Linked DNA regions of Homo sapiens: region 1 is linked to region 2. Evidence: fine-mapped expression QTL. A gene starts in region 2. The other region holds a variant in brackets. All regions are shown on one strand. Distances are from middle to middle.

Region 1 (8,340 bases), 22 kb after region 2:
GATTACAGGCACCTGCCACTATGCCTGGCTAATTTTTGTATTTTTAGTAGAGACAGTGTTTCACCATGTTGGCTAGGCTGGTCTCGAACTCCTGACCTCAGGTGATCCTCCTTTCTCAGCCTCCCAAAGTGCTGGGATTACAGGTGTGAGCCACCATGCCCAGCCTGTAGTAAGTTTTGAAATTAGGAAGTATGAGTCCTCCAAATTTGTTCTTTTTCAAAATTGTTTTGGCAGTTATGGGTCCTTTGCATTCCCATGTGAATTTCAGGATCAGCTTGTCAATTTCTGCAAAAAAATATGTAGCTGGGATTTTTATAGGGATTGAGTTGAATCTGTATAGACCAAATTGGGGAGTATTGTCATCTCAGCAATATTAAGGCTTCCAGTCTGTGACCATGAAGATACCTTACTGAAGTCTTCTTTACTTAAACCATTTATTTAGGTCTTTAATTTCTTTCAGTGGTTTATAGTTAGTTATTAGTATACAAATCTTAAACTTATTTTGTTTTTAAGTGTTTTATTCTAAATACAATTCTAAGTATTTTATTCTTTTCGATGGTATTATAAATGAATGTATGTTTTCTTAGCTTAACTTTTGGGTTGTTTATTGCTAGTGTATAGAGATATGATTGGTGACGAGGCATGGTGGCTCATGCCTGTATTTCCCACACGTTAGGAGGCTGAGGTGGGAGGATCGCTTGCATCCAGGAGTTTGAGACCAGTCAGAGCAAGATAGTAAGAGCCCGTCTCTATAAAAATTAGCCAGGTGTGGTGGTGCAATCTGTAGTCCCAGCTACTTGGGGAGGTGGGAGGACCAATTGAGCCCAGGAGGTCAAGTCTGCAGTGAGCTGTGATTGTACTACTACAGTCCACCTGGGTGACAGAGTGAGACCTCATCTCAAAAAGAAATACAATTGATTTTTGTGTTTTTTTTTTTTTTTTTTTGAAGAGAAGAAGTGTTGCTCTGTCATCCAGGCTGGAATGCAGTGGTGTGATCATAGCTCACTACAGCCTCAAGCTCCTGGTCTCAAGTGATCCTCCCACCTCAGCCTCCTGAGTAGCTGAAACTACAGGCACACACCATCATGCCCAGCTAATTTTTAATCTTTTTAGGAACAGTCTTGCTGTGTTGCACTGGCCAGTCTTGAGCTCCTGTCCTCTGGCGATCCTCCCACCTCAGCCTCTCAAGTAGTTGGGATTATAGGCGTGAGCCACCACACCCAGTCCTGATTTCTATATATTGATCTTGTATCCTGCAACTTTGGTGAACTTATTTATTGGTTCTAATAGTTTGCATGTGTATGTATTCCATAGGATTTCCTATAAACAAGATGAAGTCATCTACAGATAGAGATAGTTTTACTTCTTTTCTAGTCTGGATACCATTTATCTCTTCTATTTGCTCTGGCTAGAATTTTACTACATTGTTGGATAGAAATGGTGAGAGTAGGATCCTTGTCTTGTTCCTGATCTCAGGGGGAAAGTTTTTAGTCTTTCACTGTTAAGTATGATGTTAGCTCTGGGTTTTTTGTTCCTTTTGTCAGCCTGAGGAAGTTCTACTTTGACTGTTTTTATCATGGAAAGGTATTGGATTTGTGAGATGTTTTTTCTGTGTCTGTTGAAACGAGCATGTAATTTTTGTCCTGTTTTTGTATTTACATTTTTATTCAGTCATTTAACAAACTTTTAGTGAACATCTGTAGTGCTAGAATTACATAGACTAAGGTCACTGTTAAGGCATTCTTTGAATAGCAAGGAAGATAGGAGTGATATGTGCAGTGGCAGAAGGAAGCCTAGGAAGCTGTGGGAAGTCGGAGGAGTGTCTTGTAACCTAGCCAGTGAGGGGTGATGTCAGGGAAGGCCTTCCAGAGGACATGACAGCAAGTCAGAGAAGTGAAGGATGAGTAAGTTAGTTGGAAGGAGGTTGGCACGTGGTACCTTCCAATCATAGAAGCGGCACTTGTGAAGTCACGGAAACAGACACAGAGAGCATAGTGTGTTTTATGAAACTCCTAAGCAATTAAGCCATCACATCAAGTAGTAACTGATGACAGTGACGTCAGTCTTATGATGACAGGCAGCAGTTCAGAACTTTAAGCAGGATCTTCAGAAAGCTTTCAGTCTCCAAAGTAGGAACAGCTCAGCAGTAAGTGTCTTGTATACAGGCCAGTGGCAGCAGTTCATTGTCATGGCCCCTTTCTGATTTGTCTTCCTTGGGATCACTTTCCAGCATCCGCACTTCCACTAATAGCCAAGTAGACAAGCTGACCCTGTCAGGGAGTGACAGCGTCATCCTTGGTGATACAACTACCAGTGGTGCCAGTGATGAAGAAGATGGACAGCCTCGGCGGGCTGTGGACAACGAGAAAGAGGGAGTGCAGTATAGCTACTCCTTATTCCACCTCATGCTCTGCTTGGCTTCCTTGTACATCATGATGACCCTGACCAGCTGGTACAGGTAGGAGACACAGACAAAACAGACAGAAGACCATAAAACCCTTGGATGGCCTATAAAATCTCATCCATTGTCCTGACCTCAGAACCCTTGCTCTTACCCATATAATGAAGTTGGGTTAAATACTCTTGACTTTATCCCCTCTAGCATTTAAAACCCATTGGAATTCTTTGCAATGCAAATCATTGGGAGCTCTTACAGAGTTGAGTTAATTGAGAGAGAAAATCATGACATAAAGCAATCTGACCCATCTTTGTTCACTAATTTTCTGTGTATAGAGATGGCCATGTCAGAGCATTCTGGTTCCCGTAATAATGTACTAAGGAAGGAAAGTTTCAGGGAGGCTATCTCAATCTAGACCTTTGCCAGTAACTAGGAACATTTAAAGAACTTTGCCCTGATAGGGTCTTTCATGCTGGCAAGAAGAAAAGTCATTTGAGAGGCAGAGTCAATGAGCTGTTTAGTTCTTGGTCATAAGAACTAAAAATAGCAGCTTCCTCTGGTCCCCTTCAACCCTACTGGGGGGTAGTGCCAGCCAAGTTTCACTGGAGAATTTCTTGGCCTTGGCTGGGGGGCTGCAGGAGGCTGATAGAAGTCAGGTAGACCAGGCTTTTCTACCTGACTCTCTCTTGTTTTCTTAGCCCTGATGCAAAGTTTCAGAGCATGACCAGCAAGTGGCCAGCTGTGTGGGTCAAGATCAGCTCCAGCTGGGTCTGCCTCCTGCTTTACGTCTGGACCCTTGTGGCTCCACTTGTCCTCACCAGTCGGGACTTCAGCTGAACCTCTGAGTGCCAAGGACACCACTGGAACTCACAAAGGTCTCCTTCACCGAAAACCCATATACCTTTTAAGTTTGTTTCAACTAAAATATTAAGTGAATGCTTTGCAAGTTTGACTGTATGCAGGTTTATATCAGAAGGTGAGATTGAATAATGCTTGATGCAGAATCGAAACTTCTCATTTATCTGTATATTATGTTTACTTCTAAGGATATAGCACAAAGGGAACATTTTTTGTTTAAAGTGAACTACAGCTGTGCTGTGAAGAGAGTTCTTTATAAAGCCTGTAGGTTCTTTTAACTTTGGTTTAAAATGTAAGATAGGAAAATGTTGGATATTTGAGGCCATGCTTAATATATTTATATTGCAGTATCCTTTAAAAGCAAAAAAAAAAAA[AT/T]GCATTTATATTACAGTTTTCCTCTATGAAAGTCCTTACTTATATGATACAAGCACTGTGTTTTGTGCTTAAACTCTTCAGCGGGGTAGCATCAAAGTTCTTGGGGAAGGATCGTATATGTGGGTCCCTTCCCTAGAAGAATGGTTGCTGATATGGCTACTGCTTCTACATCTTGAGTTTTTTAATTTACTTTTTTTACACTGTAGCATTGAGACTGCTTGATTCAAGTCTGGTGCTTTGCCAGATGTATTAATTTCCATAAATGCTTTGTGAGTTTGGTTAAAATGAAGATTCACTTGGGAAAACACTGCAGCTTTAGTCTGTGTTACTATCTTGTTATGAGTATGTAAAAGTAAAATGCATGTGAATTTATCATATTTGCACTATGAAGGTATTTGGTTAAAATACAAAGACTTTTAAGATTTTAAGGCCCTTTCTTCCAACAGCTTTTATAGTTAGCAGCCATTCTTTATTTTCTGGATAGCCAGGTTTTATCACGCTTCTAGTCAGGATGCTCCTATTCCTTCTAAAAATTACGGTCTGACTAGTGAGCAAAGTCTTGAATTTATTCAAAAGTCCTAAATACCTTCTCTAGGTAAGACACTTGGTAGATGAGAGACGGAAGGCATTGTCAAGAACCATTTTCATGAGAGGTGGTGTGCAAAAAGGTAGAATAAAAGAGTTCTTTCAACAAAGATTTACTGTCTATTCTGTACTAGACCCTGTAGGTTTTGGGGTACAGTGTTAAACATGATAGAGGCTCTGCCGTCTTGGACTTTAATAGCTTAGAGAAGAGAGCAAATGAGCTGACAGGTGGTTATAATGTGAATTAGTGCTGTGGTTTAGGAATTGGAGAGAACTCAAAGGAGAGGTATTTGGTGTAATGGTAGGCTTTCTGGAGAAAATGATATTTAAGCCAAGAACTCTTAGAAGTTAGCTAAGAGAGAGATGGGAAAATGAGACGACATTGCTGGAGTAGATAAAACTGCATGTTAAAGGCAGGAAGATGGGGAAAAAAAGTTCAGTAAAGCTGGAATGGGGAAATGTAGTCAGGGACTGAATTTTAAAGGGCTTTATCAACCTCAGTAAAGAGTTTGGACCTTATGTTGAGGGTGGCTGAAAACATATTCATAGTGTCATGAACAAATTTTATCTTCAGTCACTTGGGCTGATATATAGAGAATGGATTTAGAGAGATGAGACCAGGTGCAGTCCATATGAGATGTGAAATAGAGAAGTGGAATCGTAGGGACGGGGAGAAATTGACAGGTGAGGGCTACTTAGCAATTAGAATTTTTTTTTTTCAATTTTAATTTTTTTTTTTGAGACGGAGTCTTGCTCTGTCGCCCAGGCTGGAGTGCAATGGTGCGATCTCCGCTCACTGCAGGCTCCGCCTCCCGGGTTCACGCCATTCTCCCGCCTCAGCCTCCCTAGTAGCTGGGACTACAGGCACCCACCACCACGCCTGGCTAATTTTTTTTGTATTTTTAGTAGAGACAGGGTTTCACCATGTTAGCCAGGATGGTCTCGATCTCCTGACCTCGTGATCCACCTGCCGCGGCCTCCCAAAGTTCTAGGATTACTGGCATGAGCCACCGTGCCTGGCCAGCAATTAGAATTTTAACACTGGCAGTTATGAATAATATGAAGGAGAGGTAGATTTCTGAGTGATTCTGGTTTAACCAGCTGGGTGGATGGTGGTTCCACGTATTCAGGTGGCAAACAGGAAAAACATGTGTTCGAAGAAGAATGGAGGTAGGTGGTCTCTTAAGAATGGTTAAGAGGCTTGGGAGTCAGACTGCTTGGGTTTGCATCCCAGCTTTGCCGTTTTCTGGCTATCAAACTTGTCAGCTATTATTTGTTGAGTACGTACTATTTGATTTATGACCACAGGCAGCTGAGCCTCAGTGTTGGTGCCTAGTGTACAAGATTGTTAAAGAATAAAGTTATTTTGCAAAGTGTAACCCATTTTTAGCACTGACATAGCACTGACAGTAGCTGCTGATCTCATTATGGGCTAAAATAAGACAATATTCAAAGGTCAGAGATATCTAGCCAGAATCTGATGGAGGCTGGATTTCAGATTTTGTTACAGAATTAGACAGAGGAACACAGAGGGGACAGGCTCAGTTAGGGTGGAGGTGTGGGGTAGGGAAGCAGGACTTGATATAAATTATTGGAATCATTGTCTTTTAAACCAGTGGTTTATGTCAGGGTATAGCGTTTCAAGGGATTTGAGGGTCAGATGGGGAAATGTAGCCCCTTATTTTGCCAGTGTGAAGCAGATACCCTGCTTTTCTTTACAGTAGCGGAGTCAGCTTAAGAGCTTTAAAGGTCCTAAACTTCAAAAACATTACAGTGCCCCATCCTCCGCCTTAATGTAATTCAAAATACAAACAATACTAAACTGTAAAATAAATGTAACAAAGTCCAATAAAGTTTTTATTTTTTTCTCATGATGATAACTGATATTAATTTGAAGTAACAAATGCTCTTTAAAAGTCGGGAGGCAGTGTCCCTGCTTTGCTTGGTCCTACCTTAAGAAGTAGTGAAGTCTGCCTCTTAGTAGGAAAACCAGTAGTCTAATCAAGACTCAAGTGAATTATACATGTGAATGCTGAATTATATACAAGCATGAGTAAGACAGCATTCTGAATAAGGCCAGGATCATCATTTAAAGCAGGGGAGTATTTTGAGTCATCAGATCTCAGGGTGGCCTTTCATTCCAGATGAGTACCTTTATGTTTCATCACTATGAAAGGGCTTGCCTAGCCTTGGGGAATGCGGGTTGGGGCCCTGGCTTTCAGATCAGGGACATGCTCTAGGAACTCATCAAAGGCAATAGCAGTGGCTGCCACTTTTACCTCGTTAAAGCCGGGAGAAAGCTTCTAGGTCCATGCTGGACTCCTTTATTTTCTAGGTTGGTCTTGCGGGTTATCTGGTTGGGAAGTAAAACTTTCTCTTGGTAATCAAAGAAACTGCCTGCCAAAGAGTAGCCATGGACCTGGTTCTCAGTATAGAGGTTTTGTTCTTTTTCTTTTTGGCTAGCCAAGTGAGGAATGGAGAAGGAACAAAGAAATCTGTAACTGGTTCTTTTTTCTTTTTTTAGACAGAGTTTTGCTCTGTTGCCCAGGCTGGAGTGCAGTGGTGCCATCTTGGCTCACTGCAACCTCCACCTCCCATGTTCAAGCAATTCTCCTGCCTCAGTCTCCTGAGTAGCTGGGACTATAGGTGCGCGCCACCACACCTGGCTAATTTTTGTGTTTTTAGTAGAGATGGGATTTCACCATGTTGGCCAGGCTGGTCCCGAACTCCTGGCCTCAGGTGATCCACCTGCCTCAGCCTCCCAAAGTGTTGGGATTACAGGCGGGAGCCACTGCACCTGGCTGTTTTTACACATTCAGGCTAAAGTGAGTATTCACATAATGAGTTGTGCATTTGATCTGTGCAGATTGATAACAGATAGTAGGCTTATGCTTATTAATGGAAGCTGCTGTTCATCTCTTTACTCCTGTTGTGTTGGTCTGTCCGTCCTGTTACCTAGGCACCCAACTCAGTGATGTCCTAATTACTGCTGGATGACTCAAGCCACACCATGCCTATGTTCTCAGGTGAAGAAGAATAATAGAAACCACATAGATGGGTAGGTGTACCAAGCATTAAACAGACAGTATCCACATGCCTGTAAGGTGGTGATTATTTCCCTCCCTCCTTCCTTTTACGTATCAGTTTGAGGCTTAGAGAAGTTCGTGACTTGCCTATGGTTACTCAGTAAGAGGTGAAACAGAGAAACCCAGGGCTTGGCTTAAGAGTTCTTTTTTCAATTAGACCTCAGTGTCTCTTGGGCCATAAGAATATAAGAGACAGGATTTATTAGAGACATGTAGGGGAGTCATCTGGCTCACTAATGACTCATCACCAACTCACCAGATCTACCATGGGAACCTAGTTTTTGTCTACTCTCAGGCACAGAGTGTTTGCTCCTCTACCCATCACTGACAAAGACAAGTTAGTAGTCACCTGAAGGCAAGTGACTCATGTCTTTTACTAGGTCAGCTATCCCTAGTGGCTGGCACCTACTCAGGAAAAAGCATGAATATTAGGTTAAAAACGTTTTCCCCAGAAGAGTGGTACCCTAAAGGGTCTTATTACTTACCCTTTAAATGCGATAATGTGAAACTTTATTGCCATTGAGTGTATGGGTACCAAACCAGTACTGTGTAAGGAGGGGGCAGGGGGCATCAAGAAAATACTGACTCATGGAAAAGGGCCTCATAAGACTGCTGTGAGAGAAAAGGATTTTAACAGTTAGCTTCATTTTTCTATATGTGAGAAACAGACTGAACTTAAGTTCCACAATTTCCTCAGGAAAGGCTGACCTGAAGGGGTGGTTATGCTGCAATATAAGTACTTAACCTGTTGCATCATCAAAAGTGTACCTCCTGTGTTAGAGTATTTCTCAACTGACTCATCAAGTCACCAGATCTACCATGGGGACCTAGTTTTTGTCTACTCTGGGGCACAGAGTACCAAATAAACAGGGGACATAGAAACAGCTTAGCAGGCCTGGGACCATAGTTGGGCAAGCCGTGCTCCAGTTACCCCTCAAGGAGTCTGGGCTTACTTCTGGAATAAAATGTTGTTACAACTTGGGTTTCAGAGAGGTTAACAACCACTGCTTGTATTTTCAAGAAGCCAGTTAAAAAGTC
Region 2 (8,340 bases):
TGGCAACAGTGCCTGACACATAGTAATAGCATGGTAAATATTTATCGAATGAACTAATAAGTTAAGTGAAAAAAAAGCGGCGGGTGGATCACCTGAGGTCAGGAGTTCAAGACGAGCCTGGCCAACATGGTGAAACCCTGTCTCTACTATAAATACAAAAAAAAATTAGCCAGGCATGGTGGTGGGCACCTGTAATCCTAGCTACTCAGGAGGCTGAGGCAGGAGAATCGCTTGAACTCAGGAGGCGGACGTTGCAGTGAGCCAAGATTGTGCCACTGCACTCCAGCCTGGGCGACAGAGCGAGACTCTGTCTCAAAAAAAAAAAAAAAAAAAAAAGTGCCATAATGCTGGCATATGCATATTCCTGTAGGAACTCTGAAAGGAGATCTGGGAGATGGGGGTGGGGGAAGGGTGGGAAGGACACTTCATTTTCACCGTGTGCTCCTTTATGCAGTATGTTATAACCAAGTACATGTGTTATCTTTTCAACAACATATGGGGGGAAATAACCTAGGTTTTTTTACTCGCGTCCGTGTGAAGAGACCACCAAACAGGCTTTGTGTGAGCAACAGGGCTGTTTATTTCACCTGGGTGCAGGCGGGCTGAGTCCGAAAAGAGAGTCAGCGAAGGGAGATAGGGGTGGGGCCGTTTTATAGGATTTGGGTAGGTAAAGGAAAGTTACAGTCAAAGAGGGTTGTTCTCTGATGGTCAGGGGCGGGGGTCACAAGGTGCTCAGTGGGGGAGCTTTTGAGCCAGGATGAGCCAGGAGAAGGAATTTCACAAGGTAATGTCATCAGTTAAGGCAGGAACAGGGCATTTTCACTTCTTTCGTGGTGGAATGTCATCAGTTAAGGCAGGAACAGGCCATCTGGATGTGTATGTGAAGGTCACGGGGTTATGATGGCTTAGCTTGGGCTCAGAGGCCTGACAGGTTTGACAATGGATGTGTAAAGATGGGAGGAGCTGCCTTGGGTGGCAGTGAGCCCCCTACCCTAGAAGAGATGTTGCTAAGGGGTTTCTGCCTGAGGCGGGAAATTGGAGTAGATGATCACAAAGATCTGCTGTCCTCGCTTTGGCCAAGTAGAAGTGACACACTCAACCAGTTAGGGCCAGAAACACTAAGAGATGGGGGGATCCTACATGTGGGAGGACAAATGCTTACAGGTAAGAAAATGAAAAACTGTTCAGCTGACAGCTAGACCTAATGTTTCTAACTGAACAAAAACAGTGATCACAGAATATAAACAAAGATCAGACAAGACCACCATGTAGTTGGATCAAGATACAGACAAAGCCACTCTGGTACCGCAGATAGGACTCAACATCTTCCAATTCTGACTAATAAATGAGTGGATTTTGCTTCTTTTTTTGTAACCGAGCGAATTATAGAGAAACGCCACACTCTGAGACGAATTCAGGAGTCCTTTATTAGCCGGCAACTGAGAGATGGCTAGTGCTTAAAATTCTCTCGGCCCCGAAGAAGGGGCTAGATTTTCTTTTATACTTTGGTTTAGAAAGGGGAGGGGGAGCCTAGCTGAGGCAATCTTACAGAAGTAAAACAGGCAAAAAAGTTAAAAAGACAAATGGTTACAGGAAAACAAATAGTTCCAGGTGCAGGGGCTTTAAATCCATCACAAGGTGATAGATGTGGGGGCTTTGGGTACCATCAACCGGACAAAAATGCAGGGGCTTAGGGTACTATCAACCGGGTGAATTCCTGGAAACTGCAGCTATCGCTTGCCACAGTATCTTATCAGTTAATTGCATTCTTTGATGTGCTGGGAGTCAGCTTGCACAAGTTAAATCCTTGAGGAAGTGGGATGGGTAAGGAGCGGCAAGTGAAGGAGCCAAAATGGAGTTTGTCTGTCTCCCTCAGCTAAGAGAGAGTCAATTCAGGTTAAGACAAGGTAGGGTATCACACTTTTCCAAGGACTAATCTAGCCTTGTTTTAATCCTTCTTCCTTCTGGATAAAAATTTGTAAGATACCTAATCACTGAATTGCCTCTACTCCTTGACTGTGTCCAATCCAAAACTGTTCTCCTCCTCCTTAAACTCTCCTTAGATTTAGTTACCCAGCATAAACCCAAATCCTAAAATAAGTTCTCCCCAGTCACCTCTTACCAAGACACCTTATATTTTCTCTGATATGTGTTCTCCCTTTCTGAACAAGCTAAATAAACCTAATTCTTTTTGACTACAGGTATGTTTCTGGTAGAATTCGATCTGTAAAATTTATCACAGTCAGCTCTCTTAAGTCCAGACCAGCAATACTCAGACAGGAAGAAGCAAGAATGTTAAGGACTACCTGGAAAGTTCAGTGGTCCTGAAGCAACTTGACTTGAGCTGGTATTTGTGTATGTGTGGTGAGGAGAGGGATCTGGGAAAAGAGAGGTAGGAATTATTAAATGTGAGTAGTTCTCTTTCTTCTTTCATCAGCCCTTTTCATGGCCTTGGGCAAACTTTGAGCCTCATTCCATTTCTGTAAAAGATGAATTTGGAATACATTTTCAAGGAATCCAGGAAATAACATCCCCAAATATGCCACACTGGTATGATGATTGCTTGGGGAACAGCACATGGAGAGAGGGGCTTTTCATGAATTTCCCTTATCAGACTAAAGGCTGACAATCCAGAAGGAATTCAATTATGAATCCCCTTCCAGAGAGTTTTATCTATCAGGGAAGATTAACACACCACAGGAGAAGATATTGAAGTGTGACACCTTGTTGTCCGGACATCATCATTGTTTGCCACATTCCACCTAAACTATTATATGTGTAAGTAAAAAATGTTTTCATTTTCTTCTTTAAGTGAACTCTCAAATTTGACATGTATTTTGAAAGGAATATTTACATCACTGCTTAAATGGGAAATCAGCATTGCTCGGAAGAAATGAAAAGGTTATTGCTAACACACACCTCAAAACAAAACAATATTTTAAAACTGCAGGCATGGTTGCCTGTTTGAGAGATCTGGAAAATGAAGGCTTTACTCTGTTAGAAAGGGAGATAAATACTAGAAAAATGTTAAATACCATACTGGCCTCAAACAACTAGCCTGTTGGTTTGAAATGGGACGTTCTCACTCTGCTGTTTAATATCGCTTAATGTCCTTCATGCACCCTTAGAGCCATTCATTTTTCCCAAATGGGGTGCATCCCACATTTTAGGATACGATTTCCATCGTTTCTAGGTTAATTTGGACTCATCCTTTAGTTCGCAGATTAAAAAATAAATCCTTCAGAGAAGCCTTCCAAGACTACTGCCCAGCTAAATTACTTTCCCCTTACAATAGGAGGCACTAAATACACCTTTATTGAAAGCCTATTCCCCCATACTACTTCATCGTATTCATTACATTGGGGCACGGTGCATTTATGTTGTCAGATCTCCTATTAACTAGAGAATAAATTCTGAGCGTACTGTGCCTCTCTGTACACTTCTGTAACTTCCAGATCTTTGCACAATGAATACAAATGATGTAAGGAATGACACCTTCACAGTTCCTGCAACCCCAGGATGGTTTAGCCCCACCTTCCCCCTCAGCCAATGACAGGCGCCCCCCTCTGCCGCTCCGGTCGCGGACGGTGGGCGGGGCCACGCCGTGACGCATCCGTGCGTCTGTGGAAGGCTGCGTTTCCGGCCTGAGAAACCGTCATGTTTCTGGGGAGTCACCTCAGCTGGCAGTTACCACCGTGTTAGAAAGCAGCCTCAGGACCGGCCACCTCCATCACTGGCGTCACCATGGGGGCTGTGCTGGGTGTCTTCTCCCTCGCCAGCTGGGTGAGTTCGGGGTCCCGAGTCCTCGCCGGACCTGCGGTTTGCGGGGAAAGGCCTCGAGACCAGAGCTGCACGGGCCTTGGCTCCAGAGGCTCTCGGGATGTCAGCAGGCCCTGGGCTACAGAGGGTCTCCGGGGCCCCAGACGCAAATCCGCGATACCCTCAGGTCCAGCTTAGGCGGCTCGCCCTCCGGGTTCCTCGGGGAACGGAAGAGGCTAGGCCGCCATTGTTTACAATTCGGATGGCTCCGCCCTGCGAGGCTTCCTGACTAGGTTCCTCTGGAGCTGGAGAGGGACCAAGGAATGACAGCTCCCAGCGAGGGGCTCCGGTTCCTCCCGAAGCACCTCTTAAGGTGCCATCATTTAGTTCTAGGTGGCTCAAGTAATATTTTTATCCCCTAGCACGGGATTTGCCAAAACTACAGAGTGTGTGGCAAAGCTGGGGTTTTAGCGGAGGCTTGTCTGCAGTTCAGGTGCAAGGGAAAGAAGCCCTTGTGGATTGTTATTCAAAATTGGAAACCAGGGCCTGAATATTTTGGGACTGCTGTAAGTCATTTATCCGAGGATAATCACCCCAGCATTCCTCTCTTCGAGAACGATTGTGACAGTGAAGTGAAGGTTTAATCACCTTGTAAACTGTAAACATTTTAAAGAGAAAATTATAGGGCCTATAAAAGAATATGCTGAGTTCCCTCATTTACCCACTTCAGAGGAGCGTGATTCCTTGATTCCTCATTCTCCAGCTGATTTAATTGACCAAGTGTGTAGAAAAAGCACACTCAGTTTCTCCTGCTGTACTCACAACACACTTTTGACACCTGATGTGTGGTGTGTGGGGATTTTCCCCCAAACATCAGGCAAACAGTCAGCTCTGCAGGGGATGCCAACTTGGTGCCCTACAAGTCAATTCCGAAGCTCTCTACTTGGAGATAGCATCAAATCACACAAGTGGAGGGCTCAGTCTCACAAGACTGTGCCCACTTTCTGTGCCAATGGCAAGCCTCAGGTTGTTTTACCTGTGCTTCTGACCGGCCACCTATAAATCAAAGTTCCCGTGACCTCCCTCCTTGGCTTTGATTAATTTGGTCACAAAACTCAAGGAAACATGTTTACTGGTTTATTATAAAAGTATTTTATTTTGTGTATTTATGTATTTTTAATTTTAGATTCAGAGGGTACATATGCAGTTTTGTTACATGGGTATATTGCCTTATCGTGAGGTTTGGGTTTCTAATGATTCCGTTGCCCAAACAGTGAACACAGTATCCAACAGGTAGTTTTTCAACCCCTATCCCCCCACCGTCCTTCCCCACTCTTGGACTCTCCAGTGTTTATTGTTGCCATCTTCGTGTCTGTGTTCCCAGTGTTTAGCTCCCACTTGTAAGCGAGAATATGCTGTATTTGGTTTTCTGTTTCTGTATTAATTCACTTGGGATAGTGGCCTCCAGCTGCATCTTTGTTGCTGCAAAGGACATGATTTTCTTCTTTTTTTATGGCTACTATTAATATATTTTTAAAGATACAGATGAAGTGATATGTAAGACAAGGTGTAGAGGGAACGGGTCTGGAGCTTCCATGCTCTGTCTGGGGCAGTGGCGCCATCTCGGCTCTCTTCAACCTCCAAGGGATTCTCATGTTTCAGCCTCCCGGAGTAGCTGGGATTATAGTGTATGCCACCACGCCCAGCTAATTTTTGTATTTTCAATAAAGACGGGATTTCGCCATGTTGGCCAGGCTGGTCTCGAACTCCTGGGGTGTGAGCCACCATGCCCAGCCAAAAGTTCTTCTGAACTTTGTCCTTCTGAGCTTTTATGCAGGCTTCATTATGTAGTCAGCATTCATTAAATCATTGGCTTTTGGTTACTGACCTAACCTTCAGCCCCTCCTTGGAGGGTCAGGGGTGAGACTGAAAAGTCCCAACCTCCTACTATGACCCTCACCCATCATGAAGCCACCTAGGGGCTGCCAGTCACCAGTCATCTCATTAGCATACAAAAAGACGCTGGTTATTCCAAGGATTTTAGAAATTGTATGCCAGGAAATGGGAACCAAACATACATATATTTGACAGTATTACACCAAGGATTCTGTTTCAGCTCTTTCTACTATTTTTCTTTTTTTTTTTTGGAGGGGGACAGAGTTTTGCTCTGTCACCCAGGCTGGAGTGCAGTGGCTCAGTCATAGCTCACTGCAGCCTTGAACTCCTGGATTCAAGTGATCCTCCCACCTCAGCCTTCCCAGTACAGGTGTGTGACACCATGCCTGGCTTCATTCCACTATTTCTTAGGAACAGAATGTATTTTAAGGTTGTTGGTCCTAAATCAAAAGAGTGTTCCATTTTTAAGGGCTTTCTTGAGAGCAGTGGTTTTCTAATTATTCTGACCTTGACCTAAAGAAAGATTGTACATAGTTGATCTGTGATCTGATGCACCCATATAGAGACAAAGTTTTATGAAATAATCGTTTACTGTACAATTTTTCTTTTATCTTCTATCACATTAGAAAATCCTGGTGAGTTGAAGGCCAGGCATGGTGGCTCACGCCAGGATGGTCTCAATCTCCTGACCTCGTGATCCGCCGGCCTCCCAGAGTGCTTGGATTACAGGTGTGAGCCACCGCGTCTTGCCCGGCTTTTACTCTTAAGTTATATGGGAATCTATTACAGAGTTTGAAAAAAGGAGTGATGTGATCTGGGCCTGTGTTTTAACGAGGTGGTTTCTGGTTGCTGTGTGGAGAATAGATGGTAGAAAAGTAAAGGTAAAGCAGTGTAGGCTGGGAAGAATCTTCCTCCAGCCTTTTGGGTTCTGTTTCTGGGGGCTTGTGAATTAAACTGACAAAACAGATTATTTAGAGTTTATGCATGCAAGACATGTACACACAGGAGTGCTCAGTAATAGTAACTCAAAGGGGGCGGTTAGAACTTGAGGCTTTTTTTTTTTTTTTCGTTTTTGAGAAAACAAGTTCCACTCTTGTTGCCCAGGCTGGAGTGCAATGGTGGGATCTTGGCTCACTGCAATCTCCACCTCCCAGGTTCAAGCGATTCTCCTGCCTCAGCCTCCCAAGTAGCTGGGATTACAGGCATGTGCCACCACGCCTGGCTAATTTTGTATTTTTAGTAGAGATGGGGTTTCTCCATGTTGGTCAGGCCGGTCTTGAACTCCCGACCTCAGGTGATCTGCCCACCTCAGCTTCCCAAAGTGCTGGGATTACAGGTGTGAGCCACTGCACCCAGCCAAGGCTTTCTAATTTAGTAGGAAAAAGGAAGCTGGGAGAAAGGCTTCTATGAGAAGAACAAATAGGTTTCTTTAGGAAAGACAAGTTTTTTTAGGAGAATAAATAGGAAATACGTTTGTGGTAGTACTTGTTTATGCAGGTATGGTGGGTCTTTCCAGCTTCTTCATGATCTTAAAACTGCCCTGGAGAGGGACTTTATGGCAGCCTCGTTTCCCAGAAGTTGCTGCTTTTAGTCAGATAAGAGAAGCTCCCAGAAGGCTTTTTTTTTTCCTCTGCATCTGTTGAAGCTCAGATGCTTCAGCTTAAAAGCTTAAAATAATCTTTATAACAATTCAGGGCTTCTTTTTTTTTTTTTTTTTTTTTTGAGGCTAATTTTGCATTTTTAGTAGAGACAGGATTTCACTGTGTTGGCCTGGCGGGTCTTGAACTCCTGACCTCAGGTGATCTGCCTGCCTTGGCTTCCCAAAGTGCTGGGATTACAGGCGTGAGCCACTGTGCCGGCCAACTCAGAGCTTCTGAATGGGTCGCTACAGCTGTGAGATGGGAACTTTTGCGCTTAATCCAGATGAGAGATGATAGTTGTGGCTTGGACAAAGGTGATAGCTAAGGATACTGTGAAAATGGTCAGATTCTGGATATATTTTAAGGGTAGAGCTGATGTACTGACAGATTGGATGAGGATTTTGGGAAAAGGGAAGGCATTCGGGATGACTCCAGGTTTTGGGCCCAAGCAACAGGAAGAATGGAGTTGTCATTTACTGAAATAGAAAAATGACATAACATATAGTAGGACAGATTTGTCCCACAGATATTTACTGAGTACCTGCTCTGTAAAGATACAAAAGATATAACGTTGTAAAGATAGTCTCCCCTTCGAGATATTTACATTCTTAAGACAACTATAGGTAAGTAAGTTTATTAGTTTGCCAGGGCTTTATAACAAAGTACCACAGACCGAGTGGCTTAAACCCAGTGATTTCTTATCTCTGAATTCTAGAGGCTGGAAGTCTGGGATGAAGGTGTCAGCAGGGTTGGTTCCTTCTAAGGGTGGTGAGAGAGAATCTGTATCATGCCTCTCCCCTGGCTTTTTTTTTTTTTGGTTTGCTGGCAGTCTTTGATGTTCCTTGGCTTGTAGATCTCTGCCTTCACATGGCATGTGGAATTCTCCCTGTGTTGTAAGCCTTTGTCCAAGTTTCCCCTTTTTATAAGGACACAGTTATATTGAATTAGCTGCTCACTCTACTCCATATAACCTCATCTTAACTTACTACATCTGCAGTGACCAAGTAAGGATACATTTTGAGGAATTGGGCATTAGGACTTCAAC

What was found.
Region 1: its variant is fine-mapped to the expression of SERINC3 in monocytes after LPS (Fairfax 2014, PIP 0.95). The same link has a PIP of 0.9 or more in B cells, CD4 T cells, CD8 T cells and neutrophils.

What each region holds. Positions count from the first base shown.
Region 1 is chr20:44,495,191-44,503,530 of GRCh38, reverse strand. It overlaps SERINC3 (serine incorporator 3), which reads left to right. Exons shown (of 10, transcript NM_006811.4): 9 at 2,231-2,458; 10 at 3,097-6,090. The coding sequence ends at 3,235. Among named protein-coding and RNA genes, the nearest start is that of SERINC3, 23 kb to the left of the region's middle. RefSeq lists an enhancer at 6,144-7,343. The variant AT/T (reference allele first, on the strand shown) is at 3,631.
Region 2 is chr20:44,517,356-44,525,695 of GRCh38, reverse strand. SERINC3 (serine incorporator 3) reads left to right here and starts at 3,626. Exons shown (of 10, transcript NM_006811.4): 1 at 3,626-3,783. The coding sequence starts at 3,745. RefSeq lists enhancers at 525-1,401, 3,434-3,728, 3,635-3,944, 3,863-4,415.